2 separate regions of the Homo sapiens genome follow, and region 1 is linked to region 2. The links come from fine-mapping of genetic effects on plasma protein levels. A gene starts in region 2. The other region holds a variant in brackets. All regions are shown on one strand. Distances are from middle to middle. Region 1 overlaps SPINT2 (serine peptidase inhibitor, Kunitz type 2). Region 2 holds the start of SPINT2 (serine peptidase inhibitor, Kunitz type 2).

Region 1 (3,928 bases), 27 kb before region 2:
GGCGGCAGCAGCCTGAAGAGTGTCTGCTGTGGTGAGGCCCACCAGTCGCCCTGGAAAGAGTCCAGAGGCCCGGATGGAGTTGAGCTGCCAGGAGCGGAGGGGCTGAGGCCTCCCTTGCCGTGAGAAGGGGCAGGTTTAGGCAGGAGAAGTGGGTCACAGAGCAGCAGCTTCTGCACTAGAAACATATAAAGGCTCATTGTATTAGAAACCTACAGAAGCTCAACTGGGCTTCAGAGAATTCCCTTCATCTAACTTCCTATTATGGTAGAATTAAGTGATTCTCAAGTTTTTTTGTTGCTTTTTTGTTTTGAAAGGAGTCTCGCTCTGTCACCCAGGCTGGAGTGCAATGGCGTGATCTCGGCTCACTGCAACCTCTGCCTCCCAGGTTCAAGCGATTCTCCTGCCTCAGCCTCCCGAGTAGCTGGGATTACAGGCACCCGCCACCACGCCCGGCTAATTTTTTGTATTTTTAGTAGAGAGGGGGTTTCACCATGTTGGCCAGGCTGGTCTGGAACTCCTGACCTCAGGTGATCCGCCCACCTCAGCCTCCCAAAGTGCTGGGATTACAGGCATGAGCCACTGTGCCCGGCCAATTCTCAAGTTTTTAAAAAAGTCCAAAGGCACAATTTTTTTTTTTTCAACATGACTGAGATAGGAGACAGTCCATATTGGAGTTGGTGGAGAAAGACTCCTGCTGGGCAGAGGTGCATGTGCAGACTCTGCAGGCTTGCAGGGGTTAGGGGCCGCGCCCACTGCCACACACAGAGCGCTGCAGGTGGAGAGGCTCTGCCCAACTCCCAGGCCCTCTTTCCCTGGACCACAGGCTCGCCCAGACCCCTGTGTGTCTGATTTGTCTGGGACGTGGTAAGTAGATTCCACTTGTTCACCAACCCCGAGCCAGCTGCAATGACCACTGGAGAGTGGGCTGAGGCATGCGGGGATCAGCTGGGAGGACACCAGGATCCCTTTGCGGCATCTGCTGTGAGGGAGGCGGGGCAGGAGCAGATGAGCTATTTGCCCAACTTGCTTCTGGAAGAGAGTTTTAAGCCCTAAGGGATTTCTAGGAAGGGCCAAGGGAAAGACATGGAAGTTCTTTGGTTCCAAGCAGTCGAAAGCAGTCTGGCCTGTGGCACTGCACCTGGCCACTCCTCCTGTGTCTCTGAGGCAGGTAGAGTCCAGCTGCTTGCCGGACCTCATGGGGCGCCCAGATGCCTGTACCCCAGGACCTCCTTGTTGGAATAGAGGAGGGAGGAAAGGGGCTTCTAGAGTCTAGTGTCAGGAAAGGAACACCCACAGGAGGCAGCAGGATTGGGCCTGAAGGCCAAATTCAGCCGGGCAGTTCTCTGTCCCCGTTCCCACACAGGGGTGTGTTGGAGACTTGACAGAAAAGCCCAGGGCAGGCGGTGCAAGGCCTGACCTAGAGCGCCCTCCCACCACCCCTTCAAGATGCAGAGAGCACAGAACCACGAGAGGAGAAGCGTCATGGACGCCACAAGGACTCGGTTAAGCCCCTCCAACCCCGGAAGGTCTTGGTCCTCCCTGGACAGCATGCGCCCCTCCTGCGCCCTCGAGGGCAGTGCTTCAAGGTGTGGGCTACAGTCTATAGTGGGACATCAAGATCAGTTCAGAGGGTTGTAGCCAGAAGTTTTAAAAAGTGAAATAGAGTAATAAAATATCAGTGTTCACAGGTGGTGAGGCTAAGTGTGGTTTGGCGAAAGTTCACGGGCACTCAGTAATAGGACATTTATTTCATCTTGTGGATTCATTCAAAAAGATCTGAAAGACGCTATTTTGAGGGGTCTATTTCTAGAATGGGACACCTCAGATAGTGTCTTGTGATCATTTTGGTAGGGTTGAAATTAGGACTCCCATAAAGAAAGCACATGCTGAAATTTATTCTAAAGGGGAAGGCCCCTTTTTATTAAACTTGTACATTTTACTTTCCTTCTTTCAGAATGCTAATAAAAAACTTTTGTTTATACTTAAAAAAACCATAAATCAGACAAACAAAAGAAACGATTCCAACATCACTTCTGTGATGAGAAAAGAGGCAATGGAATTCAACATAAGCAAAGAAAACTCTACCTGGAGGAAAGAAATCGATCAGCGAGGAAACAACTCGGGGCTGCTGCCAGACTGCAGGCCATGCGAGGAGGAGCCTCCTAGAGGATTTCCAAAGCAAACCCATCCCTGCCAGACCAGGAAGCAGCCGTCCTACCTCCCAGAGAAACAGACCTCAGCCCTAATGATCACTCAAATCCGAGTCAATCCCTCTATTTAAAAAAAGCTCACACATAGTCTCCCCTCCCTTCCCCAGTCCTCTTGGCGACAGGGCGGTCACAGGACATATGTGTTCTTCACCAGCTGCTCCTTGTCATCTCCGGAGCTCCAGACGGTGCGCAGGGCACGCTCCTGGTTCCTCCGTGCCACCCGGATCAGGTAGACCATGGAGGCTCCCAGGAAGAGGATCAACACCATCACGAACAGCCCCGCCAGAA[C/G]CACCACTGAGGACGAGAGAGGGGCCTCAGGACGGGCCAGGCAAGGGGAGTTGCAGCCAGAGTGGCGCTCACCAAGGGCCTGGGGAATCCAGGTGGGCTCAGCCTGAGGACCAAATGCCCCTCCCCAACCCAGACAGGGTCCAGAACTGCAGCTGGAGAGGACACAGCCTGCCAGAGATGCCACCAAGGAGAGTCCCCCAAAAAAGGAGGCGCCATGCTATGTGCGTGCCAGCAGAGTGGCCGTGTCGCCAGCAGAGTAGTCATCTGTGTTCCTTCTTTTTGAACTAAAAACCCAACTCTCAGGGCAACCTGCACAGGAGCCCCAGGCCGAGAGATGCACAAGGGTGTAAAAAACACTTAGCACCGGTGTGTACACATGAAACCTTAGGGGCTTTGTGCACACACACGCTGACCGGCAATAGAGAAAGACGTGGCCCTGCAGGGGCTGGGAGGGCTGAGAGCTACTGCGGGATGAAGTCAGGGTGGAAGCGAGGGGGTACTCAGAGCTGTGCCAGCAAATTTAATAGTGTCTGCCCCACTGCAGTCTCGCTGGTCAGCTCAGATGCTTTTCTTCAGGAGGGGATCCGGCTAAGGAGTGTGACCTGTGGCAGCCTCCCCCATGTGGCTGTGGAGCTGCAGAGTTGGCCTTTTTGGGGCCACCCTCCAGACCCAGACTGCTTGCTTCCCAGCCCCGTGCCTGGCAAACCAGGCTTCACTGCTAGAACAGGACAGACTCGCAGGCCAGGTCCTGGCTCCTTCACCGGGAAACAGGTGGAGAAAGAGGCCAGACTGGCATGGCAGGTCTTTTGTGCCAACATTATCACCTGCAACTCAAGCTCAGAAACACAGGCCAGAGGCCTGGCCTCCCGCTCAGACCAGACTGTGTTGGGAAACACCCTGGCCCGTGGTCCTCCGTCCTGTCACCCGTGACCAACTCTTATGCCCCACATAGCAGCGCTCCCTCCACACCTCAGGCCAGCCTCAGGCCCGTGTGCAGCAGTCCTCAAATGCTCAACAGGAAGACCTCATCCCCAGTCACCCACGCCGCCTGGGCAGGGCCTGCCTTGTGACTGACTCACTCCAGCCCCAACTGTGTACACTGAACGGTGGGACAAACCACCACCTCGCCATTCTCACGCAGAAACATGACTTTCTGCCAAGATGATGTTCACAGTGAAGGATAATGTAAACCACAGCTGGGCAGGGCTGAGCTCAGTCAAGGAAGGGAGGAGGCAGGCTGATGGCAGGAGGAGGGTAAGGGGCCACTTACCCTTTGAGCCAAGGGGCAGGGGAGGATTCTCCTGCTGGCCTGGAAGAGAACACACAGCCTGAGGTCAGCTCACAGCCCCCATTCCACAGAGCTGCCGCAGGGGATCCCCTCAGCCAGGGCCTCCATGGGGAGCTCTTTCTGAGGGGCTTTCTTCCAGCTT
Region 2 (8,462 bases):
CAGTACTCGGGAGGCTGAGGCAGGAGAATGGTGTGAACCCAGGAGGCGGAGCTTGCAGTGAGCCGAGAACGCGCCACTGCACTCCGGCCTGGGCGACAGAGCGAGACACTCCGTCTCAAAAAAAAAAAAAAAAAAAGAAAAGAAATCCCATCTCAACTAAAAATACAAAAATTAGCTGGGTGTGGTGGTGCACACCTGTAACCCCAGCTACTCAGGCGGATGAGGCAGGAGAATCACTTGAACCCAGGAGGCAGAGGCTGCAATGAGCCAAGATGGCGCCACTGCACTCCAGTCTGAGTGACACAGCAAGACTCTGTCTCAAAAAAAAAAAAAAAAAAAAAAAGGTGCAGGAGAGGTTCTCAAATAAGTGTTGCCCTGCTTGCCTCCAGTGGAAATTCCCAAGAAGAATCAACAAAGGACCTTGAACCATCCTGGCTAACACGGTGGTGAGACCCTGTCTCTACTAAAAATACAAAAAATTAGCCGGGCGTGGTGGCGGGCGCCTGTAGTCCCAGCTACTCAGGAGGCTGAAGCAGGAGAATGATGTGAACCCGGGAGGTGGAGATTGCAGTGAGCTGAGATCGCGCTACTGCACTCCAGACTGGGCGATGAGAGAGACTCCGTCTCAAAAAAAAACCCAAAAAAACAAAAACAAACAAAAACAAAAACAAAAGACCTTAAGCCAAGTAACCATTAACACAAGTTCTGATGCCCAGGGCCAGGCACAAAGTTATTGGCAGCAAGAACTACACCTAACTGGCCACTCCTAAAGGACCTTTCAAGTTTCTATTCTGCTGAGGAAATATATGATCTGGCCTGGTGTTGAGCAACATTACACATTTCAGGACCCTCCAAATACCAGGATTTACCACCTGGGTGGGGAAAAGGAAAAGAAAAAAATCCTGCATATCTGCAGCTACCTGATATAAGGATTTCCCCAACAGCCAGCCGTAACACACACACACACACACACACACGCGCGCGCGCATGCTCTCTCTCTGTCTCACACTGTAATGTGCAATTTATAAAGAACTGTTACGTGTTACCATTTACTAAATGGAGCATATGTTTAAGGTAGGGGTCACAAGCCAAAGGCCTACAGAGACAGAGGGCAAGCAGTAGCTGAGATGAGGCAAGCTGAGTAAGATCTACAGGCTAGGGAATGGCATATCTCCTGCCTGAAAGAGGTACTCGGCTCCTGCCAGGGACTGCTGGGCAGGAAAACAGGCCTGTGTTCTGGTTTGGTTCCATTACATCTTCATGTCTTTCAGGCAAAGCCAAAAACTACATTTTTACGTTTAAAAAATCCCAATTCTGGAAAAAGTACAAGTCACATAAAGGCTGTGTGAAGCTTCCTGGGAGTGGACAGTTTATAATCTCTGCGTGCTTTCCACTCCAGACGGTAACTGTCCCTAACGCTAGATAGGGGAGCTTTCTCACCTGGCATAAGCTCAGCTTTCCCCCCACCTCTGTCTGCAGAGGTTGGAGTCAGGACACTCTTTGTCCGGCCCGTCCACCTGTCCCTTCCCACCTGCCCTCACTACTCAGAGCGTCACCAACACATCAATCATAGACCACATGATGCTTCTCACAAGAAGCCCCGACCCCTGAGTTAACCCTCACTCTCACACGGTGGGGCCTGCTTTGTCCCCATCTCCCCTCCCCCAACTCCTGGGCCCTCTGGTACTCAGGACTGGTCTTGAGCAAATCTTCCATGTCCTCAATCTCCTCTGAACATTGTTGCCACCCTCTTACCTAATTGGAATCTCCCCTGAGGGCACACCTCCTGGGGCCCTTCCAAGTGGGGAGGTCTCCTTGCTCCTGGGAGCTGCTTCTGGACTGTTCTCCCTCCACCCTCCCCAAAATCCCCAGCTGGGAGACTTCCATTATTAGAGTAAATCATTCACTACCCCGCCTGGCACGTTATCTGCCAACCCAGACAACTACTTCTTCCTTCCCAACTTTAGCTCCGGGCCTGCCACCTCTCCCGCTGCTCTTATGATCATTCTTGGAGATTTCTATATCCAGGTAGATGGTCCTCTGACCTCTAGGTCCCAAGACCTCCACCTGATCTCCTCCCACCCTCGCCCCCCCGCTTCCTCTCAGGGTCACACCTAGACCTGTCTCAGTAACTGCCACCTCTTCAGAACCTCCCTCTCATGCATCTCACTCACTACCCACTGCATCCTATCTGTCTGGTTCATTCCCTTCAGAACCTCAACTCCAACAATCTGCTGGCCCTACCATCTACCTCGGCCCTCCGCCCCCTCATGTTTTCATACAGAATAAATTCCTTGACCAACCCCCATCCTCCCTCCCTCACACATTCTCTGTTCACTCCTCCCTCACCACCACACTCATCCAGCAGCACCTGAGCCACTGCATGGAGCTTCAGCAACACCACACTCCCAGTGGATGACTCGCTTCCGGAGAAAACAGAAGCAATCAGGAAGGAGCGAGGAAAAAAAAGTCAAAACTGCCTTCTGCCTCCGATTAAGCTGTTCAAGCTTTCAAACAAACAGAACTTACGATGAGTGAGGGCATGAGTTCACCCAGTCAGACACTAGTACTTCTGAAAGGTCAGTAGGTCCAGTCGGCAGCAGCAGTCAGGTAGGCCACTCTGAACAGAGAAGGCCTCTGCAGTGAGACCTGGCTTTGTCAATTACTACTACCGAGTGACCTCGGGCAAGGCAAGTAACTTCACCACCGCACCCGGCTGTTTCAAAGGTTAAATGGCACATCCCAGCTCAGAGTAAGCACCAGAGGTAGCAAGAGGCCATGTCCCAGCTCAGAGTAAGCACCAGAGGTAGCAAGAGGCCAGGTAACTGGGAGGTACATCCTAACGTAATTACTTAAACTGAAAAAGTCCAGCAGAGCTGCCAAATTCTGGTTCGAATTGCAAGAATGATCAACGTCTGCATTCCTGACTCCCAGTCACCTACAGCTGAGCCTCTCCCCACCAATTCACTTTTTTCTCCTGCCTAGGGCACAGAGAAATTAACCAGTCCCCAGAAGTTACCACAGGTGATGACTTGGTACACACCTAGCCTGCTCTTTTTTTTTTTTTTGAGACTGAGTCTTGCTGTGTCGCCCAGGCTGCTGTGCAGTGGCTTGATCTCAGCTCACTACAGCCTCCGCCTCTGGGCTTCAAGCGATTCTCCTGCCTCAGCCTCCCGAGTAGCCGGGACTACAGGTGTGCACCACCATGCCCAGCTAATTTTTGTATTTTTGGTAGAGACGGGGTTTCATCATGTTGCCTAGGGTGGTGTTGAACTCCTGGCCTCCAGTGATCTGCCCGCCTTGGCCTCCCAAAGTTCTAGGATTACAGGCATGAGCCACATCACCCGGCCTTCTTTTTTTTTTTTTGAGATGGGAGTTTCACTCTTGTTGCCCAAGCTGGAATGCAGTGGCGCGATCTTGGCTCACTGCAACATCCGCCTCCCGGGTTCAAGCACCAGCACCTGTCTATAAAGCCCTAGGCCATCTGGCTGCAGCCAACCTCTCCCACCTCCCATCCTCCTCCAGTCCTCCCCTCCTTCACGCCTGCTCCAGCCAGGCTGGCTCTGTCTTTTCCCTGAACCCAACCAAGCTTGTTCCAGCTTCAAGGCCTTTGTACTCTATTGCCTGCAACTGGACACTGGTCCCCCAGGTCTCCGTGTGGCTACTGCCTCATTCTTCATGTTAGAGCTCAGATGTCACCCTCCTCACGGAGACGTCCCCCGACCACCTGAGCTAAAGCCGCCCCCAACATCTTACGTCACCCTGTTGGTGTACTTCACCTGGTTCATTTAATTCTCAGTAACTTAATCTCATGGCAAGTGCTTTTTAAACCTTCACTAGCTCTGCCTCTCCCACTGGAATATTAGCTCTGTGAATGCAGGAACCCAGCTAGTCTGAGTTAACTGTTATAACCAGCGCCAGTGCCTGACACGTAGCAGGGCCTCAGTAAGTTTTGCTGAATCAATGAATTCTTGCTTTCAAGAGAGCTCTTTTCAAAACACGCTGGTGCTTGTCTGAAGCAGTTAAGGTTATAACAACACTTGTTCAAAGAGACCTTTCAGACCACACTTCCTTAAGAGTGTAGAAGTTTAAATCACCTTATTCACCACCGACTTCTAAGGGCCAATCCAAAGACCCCAACACCAGCTGCTCAACGCCAATACTCTCTCGAGCCTTAGCAGAGCTTCCTCTTCCCCAAAGCTTGTTTCCTTTCTTGCTCCCTCCTTCTCGGGCACCTACTTTACTGCAACTCAACTACAAAAACTTCAGGGGAGGCTCTTGTCCAATCTCCAAAGAGGCAGGGGTGAGATGGGCTTCTTCCGAGTCTAAAACGGCCACCAGGTCACCCAACCCAACCCCCACCATCTCACAGGCCTGGCCTCTCCCTGAGCTTTGGCCATGGAACTTTCCACCGCCAGGAGAAGGCTGGTCTTCAATTCGGCTCCTCACCCCGTTCTTGCCACAGGAAGGGGCAGTGCCACGCCTTCTTGGTCAATACCCCTTGACTCTTCCTCCACCCGAAGGAAACTCTCCTAACCCTCGCTCCTCCGCCCGTCTTCGCTGTCGAAGGCTCCCAAACCTCATTTCAAGGCTCAATCCTCCAGGGCTGGTTCCACCACACCCGCTGAACGCCATCAAGTAGCCCCCAGTTTCCTCCCCCGCCAGTTCTCCCTGCTCAGACCCCCGTTGACCCCCGAGCCTCTGCCCCCTGCGCCCCGCCTCCAGCCTACCCGCCCGGCCCTCACCGTGGATGCTGCGTTCTCGGTCGGCCGCCAGGACCCCAGAGAGGAGCAGCGATCCCAGCAGGGCGAGAAACGCCCGGCTCCGCCTCAGCCCGCACAGCTGCGCCATGGCCAGCTCAGCCGAGACGCGCAGGCGACGCCACCAGCCGTTGGGGTCTCGCGATCAGGTGCGGGAAGCCCCTCAACGCGCACGCGCAATGGAGCGCCTCGCGTTCAGGTGCCGACGCTCCGGGAGGGTCCGCCAGGTGCCAAAGCCCCCGGAAGTCGCCTTTCCGGACCTTCAGTGTGGGGACGCCCGGCCTTCTCGGCGCGCGATGCCTGGGTCTGCTCCTCACTCGCGCCCTCGCCGCCTGCGACACTCAACGGCCCTCAGCGCGTTCAGAGCCGCGCTACACCTCCCAACGCGCGGAGGTCGCCAGAGCCAATGGCGAACGCCTATTGGAAGCGGCTCCCGAAGGTGGCCGGGCAGGCAGGGGGCGGGGCGCACCTGGCTAGGCAGGGCGAGCTGGGCGCAGGCGCAAAGGGCAGGCACCTGCGCGGCCGCTCCCCGGCCCTGGGCGCACCTGGGCCCGCCCCTGGTGCCGGGGAAGAGGCGGGGCTTGCGCGGGCCTCGCCCCCAACAGAACCTGGCGGGGCGGGGCGGGGCGTCTGCCCGCTGAGCACCTGCCACCCTTCCCTTGGGCTTGGTGACGACGTCGGAGGAGGGCCTTCGCTCTAGGACTGGCCTCAGGGTGGGAGGAGGGGGCGGCAGACACGCGTTTCTTGGAAGCCTGTGGTTTTCTGCCCGCCTCGCCGCAGCTTTCCTGTGAATTCCTTCCTGAATTTCAAAGTTCACTGGGCTCATGCTCCAGGGCTTAATGCTGGGGACCCAGCGGTGGCCATGCCAGACTGGTCCCTGAGTCACCAAACAGGAACGGCCCAGAGTAGTGATAGCGGAAGCTTAGCACAAAGTGATGAAAGCTGTGATGGGGAAGGCCAAGCTTAGGGATCAGAGGCTGGGTCGCTAGAAAACCAGGGCATGATGGGAGCCCAGACAGCTTTCCCATCCAGCCTGAGAGAGGGCCAAGGAGGGCTTCCTGGAGGAGGTGATAGGCCCATGCAAAAACAGCCCCGAGCCCTGGCTCCAAGGTTCTCAGGACAGATATGGAGACAAATACTTAGCACAGGCAGCATCAGAATTGAGAGGAAGGAAGCCCCTGGGGAAACCCAGAGAAGACACCTGACCAAGCCTGGGAGTCAAAGAGGGCTTCCTGGAAGAGGAGTTACGTGAACAGACTCTAGAAAGGGGAATGGAGTGGGGCAGGCACACGAGTAGAGGATAGCCAACAAGGTAATCAACATAAATGCATTATTATTGAAAACACTTTTAGATTATTTCTTTTTTTTTTTTTTTTTGAGATGGAAGTTTTGCTCTTGTTGCCCAGGCTGGAGTGCAATGGAGTGATCTTGGCTCACTGCAGCCTTGACCTCCTGGGCTCAAGGGATCCTCCCACCTCAGCCTCCCAAGTAGCTGGGACTACAGATGTGAGCCACCACATCCAGCTAATTTTTAAATTTTTTGTGGAGACAGGGGACTTGCTATGTTGCCCAGGCTGGTCTCAAACTCCTGGCTTCAAGGGATCCTCCTGTCTCATCCTTCCAAAAGTGTTGTATTACAGGCGTGAACCACCACACCTGGCCTGAAAACACTTTGACAGTGCTATACAGAAAAGGAATCAGGGGCTGGGATGGAAAATAACAAGAGATCTTTTGAATGGGGTGGCGGAGGAAGGGCTTTGTGAGGGGTGGCTTTGATAATGAACTCTGAAGGATGATAAAGGCCAAGGGACAAACATTCCAAGAATCAGGAATGGCACATGCGGAGGCCTTCAGGCAGGAAAGAGAATAGTGTGTTCAGGAGCCAGGGCCACTCCCACTCTTCAGCCTCCCTCCTAGCATAATAATACATGAAAAGCCGTAACTGAGTTATCAAAATGGTATTTACCTTAAACAATGGAAGTCTAACCTTGCAATGAGATCATGGGACTCAAGGTGGAATCTGAATGTGAGGCCAAAGGTCTCCCCCAGCACTTGAATCTCCCACTGCCACTCAGGCCTACTAAACCTAGGCTTGAGCATGAAAACAGAGAAGTATGTGCTGAGCCGTCAAGGCTTGGAAGAAGGTATAGGCCTCTTCTTTCTTTATTTTATTTTATTTTGAGACAGAGTTTCACCTGTTGCCCAGGCTGGAGTGCAATGCTGTGATCTCAGCTCACTGCAACCTCCACCTCCTGGATTCAAGCAATTCTCCTGCCTCAGCCTCCTGAGTAGCTGGGATTACAGGCACCACCCGCCACCACGCCCAGCTAATTTTTGTATTTTTTGTAGAGATGGAGTTTCACCATGTTGGCCAGGCTGGTCTCGAACTTCTGACCTCACGATCCGCCCACCTTGACCTCCCAAAGTGCTGGGATTACAGGCGTGAGCCACTGCATCTGTCCAGTTTTGAACTTTAAACACAAAAACTCAAAAGGAGGGCTGAGCGCAGTGGCTCATGCCTGTAATCCCAGCACTTTGGGAGGCCAAGGCGGGTGGATCACGAGGTCAGCAGATCAAGACCATCTTGGCTAACACGGTGAAAAAATCAAAAAGATTAGCCGGGCGTGGTGGCGGGAGCATGTAGTCCCAGCTACTCGGGAGGCTGAGGCAGGAGAATCTCTTGAACCCGGCAGGCGGGGTTTGCAGTGAGCCAATATTGTGCCACTGTACTCCAGCCTGAGCAACAGCGCGAGAGTCGTTCTCAAAAAAAAAAAAAAAAAAAAGAGGCCGGGCTCACACGCCTGTAATCCCCAGCACTTTGGGAGGCCTGGGCATCTCCATATCTGTCCTGAGAAACATTCCAAGCATCAACATTCCTGATGCTTGGAATGTTTGTCCCTTGGCCTTTATCATCCTTCAGAGTTCATTAAAAAGAGGTGGCTCACGCCTGTAATCCCCAGCACTTTGGGAGGCCGAGGTGGGCGGATCACGAGGTCAGGAATTTGAGACCAGCCTGGCCAACATAGTGAAACCCTGTCTCTACTAGAAATACAAAAATTAGCCGGGCGTGGTGGCGCGCGCCTGTAGTCCCAGCCACTGGAGAGGCTGAGGCAGGAGAATCGCTTGAACCCGGGAGGTGGAGGCTGCGGCGAGCCGAGATCGCCCCACTGCACACCAGCCCGGGCGACAGTGTGAGACTTCGTCTCAAAAAAAAAAAAAAAAAAAAGAAGGGCCGGGTGCGGTGGCTTATGCCTGTAATCTCAGCATTTTAGAAGGCTGAGGTGGGCGGATCACGAGGTCAGCAGATGGAGACCATCTGGGCTAACACGGTGAAACCCCGTCTCTACTGAAAAAAAGTACAAAAGACTAGCCGGGCGTGGTGGTGGGCGCATGTAGTCCCAGCTACTTGGGAGGCTGAGGCAGGAGAATCGCTTGAACCTGGGAGGTGGAGTTTGCAGTGAGCCGACATTGCGCCACTGCACTCCAGCCTGAGCGACGGCGCGAGACTCGTTCTCAAAAAAAAAAAAAAAAAAAAAAAAAAAGAGGCCGGGCGCGGTGGCGGGCGCCTGTAGTCCCAGCTACTCGGGAGGCTGAGGCAGGAGAATAGCTTGAATCCGGGAGGCGGAGGTTGCAGTGAGCTGAGACTGCACCACTGCCCTCCAGCCTGGGTGACAGAGCGAGACTCTGTCTCAAAAAAAAAAA

The links. PIP is the chance, under the fine-mapping model, that this variant and not a neighbour inherited with it causes the effect. Protein levels are from the aptamer-based SomaScan assay of Sun 2018.
Region 1: its variant is fine-mapped to the plasma level of the SPINT2 protein (Sun 2018, PIP 0.95). The variant lies in the coding sequence of SPINT2. If it changes the protein, the assay may bind it differently, which can mimic a change of level.

The regions. Positions count from the first base shown.
Region 1 is chr19:38,290,416-38,294,343 of GRCh38, reverse strand. It overlaps SPINT2 (serine peptidase inhibitor, Kunitz type 2), which reads right to left. Exons shown (of 7, transcript NM_021102.4): 6 at 3,769-3,807; 7 at 1,729-2,504. The coding sequence ends at 2,338. Among named protein-coding and RNA genes, the nearest start is that of C19orf33, 12 kb to the left of the region's middle. The variant C/G (reference allele first, on the strand shown) is at 2,499.
Region 2 is chr19:38,261,282-38,269,743 of GRCh38, reverse strand. SPINT2 (serine peptidase inhibitor, Kunitz type 2) reads right to left here and starts at 5,171. Exons shown (of 7, transcript NM_021102.4): 1 at 4,746-5,171. The coding sequence starts at 4,851. RefSeq lists a silencer at 5,147-5,466 and enhancers at 5,623-6,540, 6,681-7,617, 7,618-8,462.